Regions from separate parts of the Homo sapiens genome. Here region 2 is linked to region 1. Evidence: fine-mapped expression QTL. Tissue or cell type: whole blood. Region 1 holds a variant in brackets; the other region holds the start of a gene. All regions are shown on one strand. Distances are from middle to middle.

Evidence for each region. PIP is the estimated chance that this variant, and not a neighbour inherited with it, causes the effect.
Region 2: it holds the start of OSBPL2, and the variant in region 1 is fine-mapped to the expression of OSBPL2 in whole blood (INTERVAL, PIP 0.94).

The regions. Positions count from the first base shown.
Region 1 is chr20:62,277,151-62,285,150 of GRCh38, forward strand. OSBPL2 (oxysterol binding protein like 2) reads left to right here. Exons shown (of 14, transcript NM_144498.4): 7 at 2,007-2,189; 8 at 3,908-4,015; 9 at 4,640-4,729; 10 at 6,896-7,019. Among named protein-coding and RNA genes, the nearest start is that of ADRM1, 22 kb to the right of the region's middle. RefSeq lists an enhancer at 1,783-2,283. The variant G/A (reference allele first, on the strand shown) is at 3,809.
Region 2 is chr20:62,234,952-62,243,052 of GRCh38, forward strand. It overlaps OSBPL2 (oxysterol binding protein like 2), which reads left to right and starts at 3,570. Exons shown (of 14, transcript NM_144498.4): 1 at 3,570-3,646. LOC105369209 (a long non-coding RNA gene) reads left to right here. Exons shown (of 4, transcript NR_160555.1): 3 at 55-412; 4 at 521-1,350. RefSeq lists a silencer at 3,298-3,697 and an enhancer at 4,395-5,319.

The DNA of each region.
Region 1 (8,000 bases):
TGAGGCTGGAGAATCACTTGAACCTGGAGGCGGAGGTTGCAGTGAGCCGAGATCACGCCACTGCACTCCAGCCTGGGCGACAGAGATTTTGAGATTCCATCTCAAAAAAAGAAAAAGAAAAAGATAAATCAGAAGAGGAAAGAAGTTCTAGATGATAGAGAAGAAGCCTTGTGGGTGAAAGGAATGCAAGCCGCCTGGGCTGGGTAGAGCGGGGCGTGCCGCCAGCACCCTTCCCCAGGGGCTGCACCCGGGGCCGGAGCTCCTGCTGCACAGCCAGAAGCAAGCTATGCACCTTCGCAACGCCGAGACACGTCGTCTGTCATGAGTTCACTTCCAGATCGTCCTTGCCAGTGTCTGCCATGTGCTGTGTGTCTGTGAGACCCTGGCAGTCTGTCAGGTTAGGGGCCATGGACGTGGACCAAGTCCTTTCCTGATACCCTGGATCCCTACAGATCCCTTGTTATAGCTAAAAATACACATTCTTTTCTCAGACAAGTATTCATTTTGTAAATTACATACCTTGGTAGTCAACCTTTTAAAATCTAATTTTTCAACTTTCTTTCTTCTGTAATGATTGGAAATTCTGATTCCAGTTAAGTTGGTAATTATGTGGTTTAGCTTTTCTAATTTTTAATGACTACAACTGTAGGTGTATTCACAGTTCCGGAACAATTAAAAGCTGACATTTTGATTGAAAAAGAGAGTACACTAAAAATCCTGTTCCTGGACAGGAGTATTTTGGGGTATAAGCCATTCCATCTCGGAAATTTCAGGGGCCTTGTAGAAAGACAAGGAAGGGGCACCCCCTTCAGAAAGGGTTTAGGGTCCTGAGTTCCTGGGCAATGGGAGTCCCTCGGGGTTGAGGGTTTGGAGTCAGAGGTGTGTAAGGATTGCTTCTCCACCTGCGTCTCTGGGTACCTCTAGCCAGACACTGCTGTGGCTCAGGTGGAGAGCAAGCGGGGCATCAGGGTGGAGGCCTCTCCTGCACCATTGCGCTCTCTGGGTGGGTCAGATGTGCTCTGGAAGCCATGTGTGTGTGTGTCTGTTGCCAGCGTTAGGCCAAGTGCGATGTCATGTTTGTGTGTGTGTCTGTTGCCAACGTTAGGCCGAGTGCGATGTCATGTTTGTGTGTGTGTCTGTTGCCAGCGTTAGGCCAAGTGCGATGTCGTGTTTGTGTGTGTGTCTGTTGCCAACATTAGGCCAAGTGCGATGTCGTGTTTGTGTGTATGTCTGTTGCCAACATTAGGCCAAGTGCGATGTCATGTTTGTGTGTGTGTTGCCAACGTTAGGCCAAGTGTGATGTCATGTTTGTGTGTGTGTCTGTTGCCAACATTAGGCCAAGTGCGATGTCATGTTTATGTGTGTGTTGCCAACGTTAGGCCGAGTGCGATGTCATGTTTGTGTGTGTGTCTGTTGCCAACGTTAGGCCGAGTGCGATGTCATGTTTGTGTGTGTGTCTGTTGCCAATGTTAGGCCAAGTGCGATGTCATGTTTGTGTGTGTGTTGCCAACGTTAGGCCAAGTGCAATGTCATGTTTGTGTGTGTGTGTCTGTTGCCAACATTAGGCCAAGTGCGATGTCATGTTTGTGTGTGTGTTGCCAACGTTAGGCCGAGTGCGATGTCATGTTTGTGTGTGTGTTGCCAACGTTAGGCCGAGTGCGATATCGTGTTTGTGTGTGTGTCTGTTGCCGTTAGGCCGAGTGCGATGTCATGTTTGTGTGTGTGTTTGTTGCCAACGTTAGGCCAAGTGCAATGTCATGTTTGTGTGTGTGTGTCTGTTGCCAACGTTAGGCCAAGTGCGATGTCATGTTTGTGTGTGTGTCTGTTGCCAACGTTAGGCCAAGTGCAATGTCGGAGAGGTGGTGTTGGGTGTTTCCGCCACATGTTGTGGCATGGAGGGCCCCTGCTTCCCAGCGTCCTGTGAGGGGCTCCACATGATGTCTGAGCTGCCCTTTCTTTTATTTTGCTGCCATTAATGTGTCTCTCTTTTTTATTCTTTGACCTAGGGAAGATTTAGGATTCAGATTTATATCGGAACAGGTCAGTCACCACCCCCCCATCAGTGCGTTCCACTCGGAAGGTCTCAACCATGACTTCCTGTTCCATGGCTCCATCTACCCCAAGCTCAAGTTCTGGGGCAAAAGCGTGGAGGCGGAGCCCCGAGGCACCATCACCCTGGAGCTGCTCAAGTGAGTGTCGGTGCGTCCTGCTGAGATCCGCTTCCTGCAGAAACTGAAATGGGTGCTGGTGATGTGGAGGGAAAGCTTCCTTCAGGAGGAAACCCTGTCATTTTTCTCCTGAGGTGGGGACCTCCCCACAGCAGAAACGTCTTCAGATGAGCTTCCTGACCAGGGTCCCGTGTTGCTGGGGTGCGTCCTCACGTCTGCAGTTGGAATTCGCCCCCCTTTCGGTCACATCATTCATTGTATGACCAGGGTCCCATGTTGCTGGGGTGCATCCTCACGTCTGCAGTTGGAACTCACCCCGCTTTCCGGCATCATTCATTGTATTTCTTGTCTTTTGCTGCATAACTGTCCCAAACTTAGCAGCTTCCACACCAGGCTGGCAGGTGTCTGAGGGCCGGGGACCGTGAGGTTGCGGTGGCAATGAGGGTTGGGTTGCCCATGGCGCCTGTGTCCTGGCTCCCCTTCTGGGCTGCTTGCTGCAGGGCACTGCCTCCCACAGGGGGAGAGAGCTGAGAAGGAAGCCAGGGAAGTGGCCCTTTGCACACTCCCCCACCCTGTGCTCATGTGGCAGGGGTGACTTAGGGTTGGAATTTGAAACAGCGTGGGAGGGGACCCTCTGAGAGGCTGCTTGCCACCCCTCTTCACTCTCAGCCTAAATGCTCCCCAATCCAGTGTCAACCAAAGACACCTCAGAGCAAAACACAAGTCTCCAACAAATGCCGGCCGCTAAGACCCGACAGACACAGACCGGATGCTGGCGTCCTCCTGGGCCACCAGTTCTGAGACGTGAGTCTTGCCAAGCCACTGCCTGCAGTCTTGTTGTAGGCAGCAGGTCCTAACAAATACATACAGAAATAAGTAATAAACGACACCTTGCCTGATGAAGCATTTGATTTGGGTTTTGCTTCACATTGGCCCTGCCTGGATGGTGGCTAGAAGGTTCCACAAGGACCTGGAGAAGCCCCTGAGAGTGTGTCCTGGGGCTGGTATGGCCGAGTGCCTGTTGTGCAGTGGCCTTGCTTAATTAAGAGGCATGCAGAAATGAGAAGTTGCACACCTTGCTGATAAAGTTGCACACCTTGCTGATAACCTTGCTGATGAACCAGTTTGGGTTCCACCCCCAGGAAATTGAGAGAATTCCAGACGTGTGGCAAAATACCCTGCTCTGAGCAGATTTCTGCCTTCACTGTGGCTCCCCCACGTAGCACCTTAGAACATAGGGCTGCTGATCTGCTGCCTCACATTGGTGGGGTGTTTTCTTCTTGGGCAGGGCCATTTGGGAGGATGAGGAGTAAAGGAAACAAGTATGTGGAGTGCGGTTGAAAACCCTGCACCCCTCCACAGCCATGTGCCAGCTCCCCAGAAAGCCAGGGCCGCATGCCCAGGACCCTGCATTACTGCCGTGTGTGTTTCGTGAGGTGGCCTTTCTTTTGACGACTTCACAGGAAAGCCATTTGTCTTTGTTCAGTCTTCTTTGATTGCTTATTAACTTGTCTTGACATTTAAGTAGAAAGCTTTGTAGATGCTACAAAGGAAAGAAGAAGTACATTTCAAACGCATGCTAAATACACAGCCTCCGTCGCAGGGGCTTCAAAGCAGCGTGCTGCTCTCCCGCGGGTGCC[G/A]GTTGCTGTGACCCAGCCCCGCCTGGTCGTTGCGTCTTGGGTCACGTCGTGTCTTGGCTTTTCTGGACTCTCACTGCTTGTTTTCTGGTGTCTTCACAGACATAATGAAGCCTACACCTGGACCAACCCCACCTGCTGCGTCCACAACGTCATCATCGGGAAGCTGTGGATAGAGCAGTATGGGACAGTGGAGATTTTAAACCACAGGTGACAGCACCCCACCGTTGGGTGAGAGCGCGAGGCTCCGGGTGGGGATGGGCGAGCCGGGGAGCGTGAGCATCCGTGCTCCTGGTGGGTTTTAGCTCAGCCTCACGAGCTGCTGCCGTGTCCCCGCCAGCCCAGGCATAGCAGCTGCCTAGACTTGACTCTGACCGGTGTTGGCCATGAATGCTCCTCGTTCAAGACCTCGTTTTTCGTCACGGTTGTTACTTTAAGGCTTTGAGCTATGCTGAAGAGCTGTGTCATTGCCAGGTGCAGCGCAGTGGCCGTCCACGGCCGTTGGCCACTGTCTAGGCTTGAATGCCCTATTCCTGGAAGCTCATGACTGGTGGGCTTTGCCTTTTCACCACTTTAGTGAGGTATAATCGATGCATCATAAGACTCGCCCATTCTGAATGGACACTTAAGTGATTTTTAGTAAATTGACCGAATCATGGAGCCGTCCCCACAGCCCATTTCAAACACTTCCATCGCCCCAAAGGCCCACCACACCCATTTGCAGTCACCCCCCGCCTGCCCCAGGGGCCTCCACCGCGCTTCTCCTGTTACAGAGTTACCCTTTCCGGCTGTTTGCTGTCTTGCAGCAGAAACCTGTGTTTGTTTTTCTCACAGAACTGGACATAAGTGTGTGCTTCACTTTAAACCGTGTGGATTATTTGGAAAAGAACTTCACAAGGTGGAAGGACACATTCAAGACAAAAAGTAGGTCCTTGCCAAGTGTTCATGGGGCACCACTACAGCCTGTGTGTCCACGTTAGAAGGGCTCAGGTGCTCCTGGGCCTGCGTGTGCCTACGTGCATGAGACGCGGGTACACCAGTGCCATCTGTTCATGGTCCAGAAGTATGACTCTTTTTTGTTTTGGAAAGACATTTTGTTATTGAGCATAAAAGGAAATAAAGGGTATTTTTGAATGTAGTTTCTAGGTGGCTTGTTACTGGGGCCATCTTCTTTTGATAAAATTGTCTTGAGAAGTCAGCTATTTCCACTGGGAGATGAGAGGGGACTGTTTCGCAGCAGAGCTGAGGTGGGTGGGAAGTGTGGCCTTGCGTTTTCCTTCTACCAGCACCCCATGCACGTTGTCAGGCAAGACTCAAATGTGTTAGCTTGAGGGGCGTCAGTGTCACGTGACCAGTTCACTCCAGTCTTTAAATCAGGGACTTTCGCAAGTTTTTGTGAGCAGAGAAATGGTCAGTACTGTTCCAACAAATTTTTCAGTTTTTTTCTCCCCATTTGGGTTAATTACTTTGTAATCTGGGTCTCACATTTGTTTTTTTCGTAAGGAATTTGAGCCATAGAATGTCATGAAGTTCCTTCTAGTTCCAAAAATGTAGACATTTCCCATTAGAAACTAGTCCCCAATTTAAAACAGTCAGGGCCAGGTGCAGTGGCTCATGCCTGTAATCCCATCACTTCTGAGGTGGGCAGATCACCTGAGGTCAGGAGTTCGAGACCAGCCTGGCCAACATGGTAAAACCCCGTCTCTACTAAAAATACGAAAATTAGCCAGGTGTGATGGCGCACATCTGTAATCCCAGCTACTCAGGAGGCTGAGGCACAAGAATCTCTTGAGCCTGGGAGATGGAGGTTGCAGTGAGCCAAGATCACGCCAATGCGCTCCAGCCGGGGCAGCCAAGCAAGAGGCTGTCTCAAAAAAATAAGACAGTTGGTGTTTCTGCTCTGTCCACCCTCTATGGTAGACCAGAAATGCACCCGTTTGAACAGCCTATAAAATAAAATGGCCAGGCTTATGACTGACCATTTCTCCCATAAAACATGTGAGGATCAACATGTGGACCTAGAAGGGACAGCAGTCTTACAACAGGGTAGCAGTCATCAGTGCCTTGACACCTCTCCCCCTTGGAACTCAGCCCAGGGAGCAGCTGGCTGTCTGTTTCCAGAAATAGGCGGGGGCGCCGAGGCCAACACTCGCTGACCCTCAGTGAGTGCATGTAAAACATGTTTTTCCAGAACCGGGCAGGGACCCCGAGGCCAGACTCGCTGACCTTCAGTGAGTGCATGTAAAGTGTGTTTTGGTTGTCTGGTTTTCCATCCTAAATTTAAGGGTGCTCTGTCCTTGGAGACAGAGTTGTCCCCAGGCTGTCTACTAGGTGAGGCCTGGCCCAGTTCCCCGCGTCTGTGTGCTGGCTCTGCAGGCACTGCAGTGACACCGTCCCCTCCTGGGTCCCGAGTCTGTCAGAGTTGCACTTCCCGGGAGTCTGTGGTCACGGTTGACTCTTCCCAGCAAGAGGCGAAAGGAGAAAGAAAATGGAGTCTGGCACTATTTGGCTTCATCCCTTTTAGAATCGAGAGCTCTGGTGGCCACTCTGCAAAGGTCTCTGGGTTGTTATTGATGAAAAAAGGCAGGCGGGGAACCAAAGATCAAGCAAGCAGCATTGACTGCACTGATTGATAGAAAAGGGCTGAAGGACACACACACAACACATTGAGTGTGTTGAAAATGATCAGTGGGCGCATGCAGCTTTACATTTTAAAACGCTCACTCTTTTTTGCCCCTTCCCGTCTCCTGCAGCCCCCTGGACCAACCATCCTTTGGGTTTCCATCCCTTCCCGTCTCCTGCAGTCCCATGGGCCATCTCTCTTTTGGGTTTCTGTCCCTTCCCATCTCCTGCAGCCCGGTGGGCTGTCCATCCTTTAGGTTTCCGGCCCTTCATTTTCCTTTCCGTGGTGTGTATCGGGGCTACGAATGGTCCCAGAATGCAAATTTTCACCTTCGCATTTATGTCCAGAGATGTCCCAAGATGCATAAGAAAACATACCTGAGGGGAATTTATTCCAGGGTGCCACATGTTTAGACAAATGGTTTGTAATGACTAAGACTTGTCTTTAAAAATCCCATTTAATTACAGCAAAAAGAAGCTCTTTATGATCTATGGCAAATGGACGGAATGTTTGTGGGGCATAGATCCTGTTTCGTATGAATCCTTCAAGAAGCAGGAGAGGAGAGGTGACCACCTGAGAAAGGCCAAGCTGGTAAGGGCTGGGGCGTCCCCGGGCAGAGCTGAGCCCTGGGTGCTGAGGGCTGCCAGGCCGCTGCTGCCTTTAGCTCACCTGTTGGGGTCCCAGGGAACCTTTGGGCCCCACCAGGAGAGATGAATGTGCAGAATTTGTCTGTCCAGATGAACCATATATTGTGGGTTCCAGTATCAGTGAGGGGGTTTATCTGTATTTCTTTCCATTTTTTTTTTTTTTCCCCTCCAGGCAGGGTCTCCCTCTGTTGCCCAGGCTGGAGTACAGTGGTGCAGTCATAACTCACTGCAACCTCCAGCTACCAGGCTCAAGCAATCCTCCCTCCTTAGCCTCCCAAGTGGCTAGGACTATAGGCATGTACCACCATGCCTGACTAATTTTTATTTTTTTTAGAGATGGGGTCTTGCTATGTTGCCCAGGCTGGTCTTGAACTCCTGGGCTTAAGCAGTCCTCCCACCTCGGCCTCCCAAAGTGCTGGGATTACTAATAGGCATGAACCACAACACCCAGCCGGCATATCTGTATTTTGGTTGCACGGAGGCTGCTGCTATAAACCGTGGGCACCAGTGCCCACGAGTCATACATAATTGCTGGCCCCCATGGCTGGAAGTATCTGAGGGAACCTCAGGCAAGGCCGTTTCTTTTCTGGAAGCTCCAAGTTCTGGGTCCTTCTTAATAAATCTTCTCGCTTTCTTTGAGTTAGCCTAGACATATTGTTAAAAATCAAGTGAATTTCAATTTTTTGTTTTTAGTTGTGAGTACCAGATAATATATTCAACAGCCAGAAAGTACTGGCAAGGCTTTTCCCCTTAAAGCTTTGGAATACTCATTATCTTAAGACTAGTTGTTCTTGAACTTAAAAATAAAAGGGATAGTTCAAAAGAGGTGTCCTATTTTCTACATAATGAATTGGAATGTACCAAACCTGAAATGTTCAATATTTATTTAACGGAAACATTCAGCCTCCTCCGGATCCCAAGTGTT
Region 2 (8,101 bases), 42 kb before region 1:
CTTGTCTCGCTTCACGTGGTGGGTTCAAAACTAAAAATACTCTCCTCCCCACAGCAGAGAAGCCAGGGCTGTCACGTCGCAGAGGAGACTGGAGAGCTGCGGCGGGGAGGGGTCAGCTGCGGCCACGTGAGGGCCAGGCCCCTCTCTGACTGCCCAGGCTGCATCCACACAGAAGATTCCATGGCTTTCCATAAAAGAGAGTGGGAGAATGTCCTCTCTAAAGGCCTGGGGAGTGCCTGGGGAGAGGAGACAGCCTCAGCTGGGGCTCACCAGCCAGCAGCTGCCAGCCAGGCCAGCAATGCCAAGGCACCCGGCGTTCCTGGAAGCCAAGCCCTGTTTGATCTAATGGGGCAGCTGTGGGTGCAGACCCAGATAAAGAGATAAACCCAGACCCAGAAACCTGGGGGAGGAGGTAAGAGTGGAGCGGGGGAAAGGGCGGTGGGTCGTAGGCGGGACTGGTGCTGCCAGGCCCTGGGCAAGCTGCTTCTGCTCTCTAAGCCTCAGTTTCCCCATCCAAAAGGTGGGAGCAACAACCTCTCTTCCGCCTCCTTCACCGTGAGAGGAAAGGAAGCGGGATGACATAGTTGTGGCTGGGACTGCTGGACCCCGCATGCCAGCCCTGGGAGGTATGTGGGTCATGAAATCCACCCACTGGTGACCTCCCCCATGGTGAGGGAGGGAGAGAGCTTCTCCCCTCCTTGGCTAAGAGGACAGAGGGAGGATCCTACAAATTCTGTCAGGAAGCAGAAATTTGGTCTGAGAGCAGTGAAGGTGGGAGCAGACACCCCCCAAATCACCTGCAGGATGAGCATTTCTCAGGCTCTAGAGAGCATGTGTGGGACACAGCCGCCAGCCCACCTGGTGCGGGGGTCCAGCAGCCACAGCCATGGGAACTCCTGGGCCTGTTGTTCGTGTGCGGATCCTGGTCCGGGAGCCTGGATGCGGCTCTGCCTTGCCGACAAGCTCCTGGGCCAGGCCTGGTCCACCAGACCTCCCTATGCTTGGAGTGCCTGCTTGTTGTGCCTGGAGCTGTGCTGGGCCCTTCCTCATTGCAGGGCTGGGGGAGTCACTTAACCTGTCTGGGGCTCAGTCTTCTCATCTGTAAAGTGGGAATGATGGCACCTGGTACCCACTTGATTGGCTGTTGCAAACATGAAACCAGATGGGCCTGTAAATCACAGGGCACTCGGCCGCCATCACCATCATCATCATCAACATCATCATCCTCATCATCATGGCCCCAGCTCATCCATCTTTGTTGCCTTCTCCACCCCCATCTTCCATCCTTGGAGAACTGTGCCTCTTGAATTGGCCTCGTGACCTAGTAAAGATCATAACAAAGACGCCTAAGTTGGTCTCAAGGCACCCTCCTTACTACCCACCAACTGAGGGAGGATTCTCGCCTAGTCCCAGCAACTGGCCCCGGGGAGGAAGTACCCTTCCCAGTCCTGGCACGTCTCCAGCAGTGCTGGCTGACGGCAGACTACCCTTGAAGCTCAGTTACTGCATTTGTGGAGAGGGGTGAAACCCCTGCTCCAGCCCAGGGGCCATCTGAGATCACACCCCCAACCCCAAGGCCAGGGTGGATCTCCCTGCTTGGCCCTGGGGTGGTCCCTGGGCAGATGAGAGGGTCCTTCTGCCTGAGCCTCTGAGGCTGCCCTCACTGCAGAGCTCGTGGTCAAGGGGTGGGTGGGCAGGTTGGATCCCCTCAAGGGCACAGGGGTTAGAGTCTTAGAGACTTAGGGTGAGGGACATGGAGAGTGATGGGTTTCTGGGACCCTGAGCTGGCCCTGGCAAGGCCCACAGGGAAAGCTGTGGAGCGCAGTCATCTCCGTGGCAACTGGCCTCATCGTCCTTGTCCTGGCTTGGGGGCCGCACGCCTTCCCTTCCCTTTCACCGGCTGGAGTCGCTTTCTTCAGAGGTAACCATGGCAACCCCTTTGTTTCTGAGGCCTGCCCGCCCTCCTCCCCGTTCTCTCTTCAGGAGAGGCTCAGCCAGCTCCTTCCTGGTCCCGGCACGTCTCTAGTGGCGCCGACTGACAGTGGCCCACCAGTGAGTGGGGCCAGCCCCTGGGGTGGGGGAGAACGGCCCTGCTGGGCCCAGAGATGTGGCCTGGGCCCCACCCCTGCCACAGAGGCCACGTTCATTGGCTCACTCATGCCCTGAAATTTATAGAGAGTACCCACGTCTGCCACGGGGCCACAGATGGGGCAAAGGCCTGTCCCTGCCTCCATGGCCCTGCTAGGGGCAGCCTGGAAGTGGGGAGACAAGGCCTGAGGAGGGGGTGCAGAGGCCCAACGGGGGCTGGCTTTGCTGCAGGACGCACTGCGGGGTCACGGGTCATCTGCCAGAGCTCTCAAGGCCACAGGAAGCCCAGGACTCTTGGCTTTACCTCAAATGGGCTGAAGCAGAAACAAGCATGTGGTTCACGTAACTGAAAAGTCAAGGAAAGGACCTGCTGAGGTGCAGCAGGGTCCACGTGACCCGGCCGTGGTTGCTCCGGCTTTCCTCTGGGCTGGCTTCATTCTCGTGCAGCCCTGTTCTCGGGTAGTGAGATGTGGAAGACTGGCCCCTTCCCTCTCTCACCTAACCCAGCTCTGGAGAGGTCTGTGGGCAGATGGGAGAGTCATTTGACTTCAGCCTCCCCTCCGGTCTGAACTCTGACCCTACAGCAAAAGTCCCAGGACTGAGCCTCTTTGGCTAGAACTGGGTCACAGGCTGACCCCTAAACCAACTGCTGTGACTATGTAGCCAGCCTGGTTTATGCCACTCCACTCACCTCAAACCAGACCCATGACTTCAATGAGATGTTGACAGGGGAACCCTGGTTTGCAGATGAAACTGAGTGATCACAGACTCAGAGAGGTTAATTAATTTGTCCAAATCCACACAGCTGGTAAAGAATGCAAGCTCCAGGTCTGATTCCAGAACTTCTGGGCTTAACCCTGGAGCCACTGTAGGTCAGTGGGAGTCCAAAGGGTTTTAAGTATGGTGGTGAAACGGTCGGGGATGCAGCTGGAGGGGTAAATTGGCGCTGGATTTTGGTTGGCGGTGAATGGCATGCAAAGGAGGTGGACGATATTCAGGATTTGGTAGGACAGTGGAAGCAGCTACGCCCCAGCTATCGCACGGTCCCCAGCATTTGTAGGAAAAAGCCCCCAGGGCTTTGGGTAGCCTCGCAGGCCCGCACTGCCGCCAGGACGCAGTGCACCTGAGGGCGGAGCACCCACGCCCCGGGCCACCTGACTCACTGTTTGTCAACTCTGCTCTCTGCAGCCACGCCCTTTCCTCCTTGCCTCCCTCCCCTTTTGGCTCAGGGGCGGCATAACCCCGCCTCTCTCCTGCTGTGACTGGCTGTCCTTGCCGTCACTCCGCTGCGTGGGCGGGGCTCTGAGGGGGCACAGGTAGAGGCCCTTCGCGAAGGGATTAGCATAGTCCCACCCCCCGGCGCGAGCCTCGGGCCGGGCGCTGATTGGGCAGGCAGCGGCCGACGCGGCGGCGCCGGGCGCAGCGAGTGGCGGGCGCGGGCTGTCAGTCGGCGAGGCGGCGGGCCGCACTTCCGCCTCGGTGTCAGTGGGTCGCGGGCCTACGGGGCGGGGGCGGGGCGGCAGTGAGCTCGGCCGGCAACCGAGGGACCCGCGTCCAGGTGAGTGGCCCCCGCCGCCGCCACGCGAAGGCCCGGGACCCCGGCGAGCTGCGGGGCCTGGGCCGCGGGCTGGGGCTGGAGCCGGGGCGGGGAGGGGAGGGCGGGCCGGGCAGGACCCGGGTCCGCAGGCCGCCTCCAGCCCCGGCCCCGGCCCCGGCCTCGACCCCCACTGGGAGGCGCGCCCGGCCTAGGCCGCAGCCTGGCGCCCCGGGGAAACTTTGGGAGGAAAGTTCCGGCCGGGCGTGGGGCCTGGGCCTGGGTCCCGCGGCCCCCGCACCCTTCCCCCTGCGGTCGCCCGGCAACTGCGATCCCGGGACCCCCGGCCCGGCCCCCCCGAGATCCCCAGCCCCCCTGCTGCCCCGCTGAGCAGGAAGTGGGGACGGGCGCACCTGCTCGCGGCCTCGCCCTCTCTCACCACCTCACCGGGAACAGGGAAGGATTTCGTGCGCATTTAGGGCGATCCTGTAGGTGAGGAGGGCGAGTTCCGCCGGGAAGAAGGGCAGGGAGACGCAGTCCCACTCCGACCCTGGCCTTCTTGTCCCGCAGGCCTGTGTGCACGTCGTCCCGGGGAGGGTGCCCGCGAGCCCTTGTCCGTTCCCCTGGGCTCTGTTTTTGTTTTTAATTTATAAATCTTAGCAGACTACACACGGTTGAGAACTTGCTACCTAAAACCTATCTTTGGTAATGTAATTTTAAGAGGTTCCTTCTTTCGCCAGTTATATTTTGGTACTCAGAAGAATACGTCTTTAGACTTTCCAAGTTTATAAGCCCAGACCAAGACTGTTAGGTCGTCACAGCACCTCAGCCTCCCCGCTTCATGGGAGGACCGGCGACGAGGCAGTGGGTGTCGGGGTGTTGCAGGCTCTCCTGGGGTGAGGGTCACCTCCCAGGGGCGTTTCTATCTGAACCGTCCTCTAGGACAGGCCCTGGCCTAGCCTGGCTCCGGCAGCTTTGGGATGACTGCCCGGAACACCTGGAGAAGGGGTCCCATTCGGTTTGGTTGGATAGACGTTTCTCGAATGCCTGCTGTGGGCCTGGCTGGGTGCTGTGCGGCCTTCCCACCAGCTGGATGTGTGGTGAGGACAGCGGAGAGTTGAGGAGCCCGGAACTGGTGCAGGGGCCACATGCTGGGAAGCCACGGCCGTCCCTGCTGCCCTTCCTAACTCGTGCCCATGGCCTCTTTTCTGGCTGTCAGCCTCAACTCCTTCATCCGGACATGTAGCACTTTGCTGATAAGAGAAGCAAACGAGATCATTTTCTTGTTTTATGTTTTGAGATGGAGTCTCGCTTTGTTGCCCAGGCTGGAGTGCAGTGGTGCGATCTTGACTCACTGCCACCTCCGTCTCCCGGCTTCAAGCCATTCTCCTGCCTTAGCCTCCCATCTAGCTGGGACCACAGGCGCCGGCCACCACGCCCGCCTAATTTTTTTATTTTTAGTAGAGATGGGGTTTTACCATGTTGGCCAGGCTGGTCTCGAACTCCTAACCTCAAGGGATCCGCCTGCCTCAGCCTCCCAAAGTGCTAGGATTCCAGGTGCGAGCCACCGCGCCCTGCCATGAAATCATTTTCTACCACAGTCTCTGACACCTAGTGCGCACCCCGGAATGCCAGTTACCTTCCCCTTGTTGAGGACAGGAACTTTGTCGGTGGCACTTCCTCCCTGCCCAGCCCAGTGCCTGCCACAGTGTCGTCTTTTAGAATGTGGCAATGAGTGAGTGAGTGACTGAGTCTCCCTCATAGAATTTACCCTGTTTTCTTCATGTGTCCATCTATTAATGACAGCTCTTACCCCAGCAGACGATAATATTTAATAATGATTGTTCCAGGACTGTTACGAGCATGTCGTATTCACTTTCTTTGTGTGATCTTCACAACAGTCCACTGGGCAGGTACTGACATTATCCTTAGTTCATTCATGAGGAAGCTAAGGAACAGAGAGGTTAAGTAACTTACCTAAACCACACAGCAGTAAATTATGAAATATGGATTTGAACCCAGGCTCCAGGGTTCACACTCTTAAACACTACCCTGTACTGCCTTTTAATATCAAGATTTTCATTTAACATTTTCGTTTAGAATATTCTAATCATGCTGCATTACTCTGTGTCAGAATTTCGGGATTTTGCTACATATAGAACTAATAGACTTTCTTTTTTGTGAGCCTGAGTGTTTACAAAGCCATTTCATTTTTTCTGAAATAAAGTAATTTACCGTTTGACCATTCAGGATTTTGCCAGAATACCTTCCCTGCCACCCAGCTCCTTTGTTACTGGCAGATTCAGTGGTGGTCTCTGTGTGAAGAGGGAGGACTGAGGGGCATGGGTGCTGACAGGCGTACAGTCCAGACTCTGAGGTCTCCGTTCTGAGTTCAGTTCCAGGGGACTTCACACACTGCCTTAGAGTACACACGTAGGACATTTTTCTTCCACGCCTCGAGTGCGTTGAGAGGGTCAGACTCTGCTGTGTTCCACATGTTAATGAGAGGTGCTGTTTGAATGTGAAAAAAATGCCACTTGACTTTCATCCCAGTGTCTCTCCTCTGTGCCGTCCAGGAGATGCCAGCAGATGGGTCTTGGAATTTTTTTTTTTTTGAGATGGAGTCTCGCTCTGTCGCCCAGGCTGGAGTGCAGTGGCGCGAACTCGGCTCACTGCAAACGCGAACTCAGCTCACTGCAAGCTCTGCCTCCCGGGTTCACACCATTCTCCTGCCTCAGCCTCCCAAGTAGCTGGGACTACAGGCGCCCGCCACCACACCTGGCTAATTTTGGGTCTTGGATTTGTCATTAAAGCTTGCTCGACTTTTAAAGTTTTAGTACATTCAGCCAATTACAAAAGTGACATTTTGTATAAGGGAATTGTTGACACATTTTAGGTTCTTATGCTGTCTTCAAGCAGGGAAGCTGCCATCTCCTCAAGGTGATTTCTTTAATGTCCCCATGCAAGCCATGTCTTGTCTGGCCGTGCAGGCACAGCTGGCGCCGTGCCTTCCTGAGTCACAGCATCTTTGCGAAGGTGGTGCGCCAGACCAGGGCTCTTGGGTCCTGGGTGGGTTCCCACTGGCTCCTGCCTTCAGTGTCTTTGCCTGTAAGACGGATTACTATGTGGAATCTGTGAAAATATAACATCAAGTGTCTGATACGTTGTGGGTGCCTGGGCCGCCCTTGGCTCCAACACCTGCTGAAGCTGGAGCCTCTCAGCAGTGCAGCAGTCACACCCTCAGGTGTCCCGGGATCTTTGGGTGTGGGCTGATTTTCTCCTAGTCATTGTCATACTTCCTGTTTGGGTGTTGACATTTCGTTTAGTGTTTAGCACAGATTGTCAGGTACGAGGTTTAATTCCAATATGTAGTACATTTTCAGGTTGATTTATAACCTTATCTACACTGAAAGGAAGTCAGTATTTGAACATGACTGATTATTAAAAAGGACCGAAGTCCTGAGTTAATATGGTGGGTTCTGGTTTGATAGTTTAAATGCACTTTCCACATATGCTAGTTGATTTGTAAATCTGCTGTCATTTTTGCTTTTTCAGAGTGTTCTTGCTAGTGAGTTTCAGGCATGGTGTCCCGGCCTCTCAGGCTGCTGGTTTGGGCTAGGGTCCCACTGTGGAAGCGTGGTGGTGTCCCGGCCCACCTCTGCAGCTCTTGATAATAAAAGCATCTGTTAAATAGCTCACAGCACTGTTTGCGTGAACTTTTTGGCACTTCTTTCCTTTTCCTTCCAGATTCAGAAAAGAACTTGGGATCATTCAGCAGAATGTCACAGCATCCACATTCTTTCCGCTGGAGCTTCTGCTGATGCAAATCCTGTGACCTCTGAGTTGAGCTGAGTGGTGGAAGTGAGCTTTTATAAGGGACTGGATCTGAGACTCGTGCCTGATGTTTGTGGCTGTTTCTCTTTGCTTGCCTTCTGTTTTCAGTGGAACACTCGCTTGATGTATTTTGAGAAACAAACTCTGGGATCAGTCCTGTTGAGCTAGTGGCTGGCTCCATAGTTTGGGGCCTGAAGAGGTTCCCGCACCCTCAGGGCTTGTGGCGGTCATCAGGCCTCTCTCCTGGGTGTAAGGTGTGTACTTCTCACCTGCGCACTGAGGGCCTGGGGGCTGTGGCCCCGACGCTGAGGCAAGTCAGGGGTGGGAAGGGTCTGAGGGGCTCTTGGCTGAGCAGACACTGAGCACATTTCTTTATCAAAGGCGCTGGGACTGCAACCTTCAGGGGTGCCCAGAGAGCGCCTGTTGTGGGCTCATACGGGGAGTTCTTGGAGGAGCACCAGGCAGGGAGGACTGTAGTGTGTAGGGAGTTGTGTGGAGTTTTGGTTCCAGAAAAGACGGAGGCAGCTGTAGAGGAAGGAGGACTATGGTGTGGAAGTGAGTGCCTGTGCTTTGTACTGAATAAACCTAAGGCTGATCCAAGGCTGATCGTGAGAAAGAGCCCCCTGTAACCTGGGACCTTGTGCC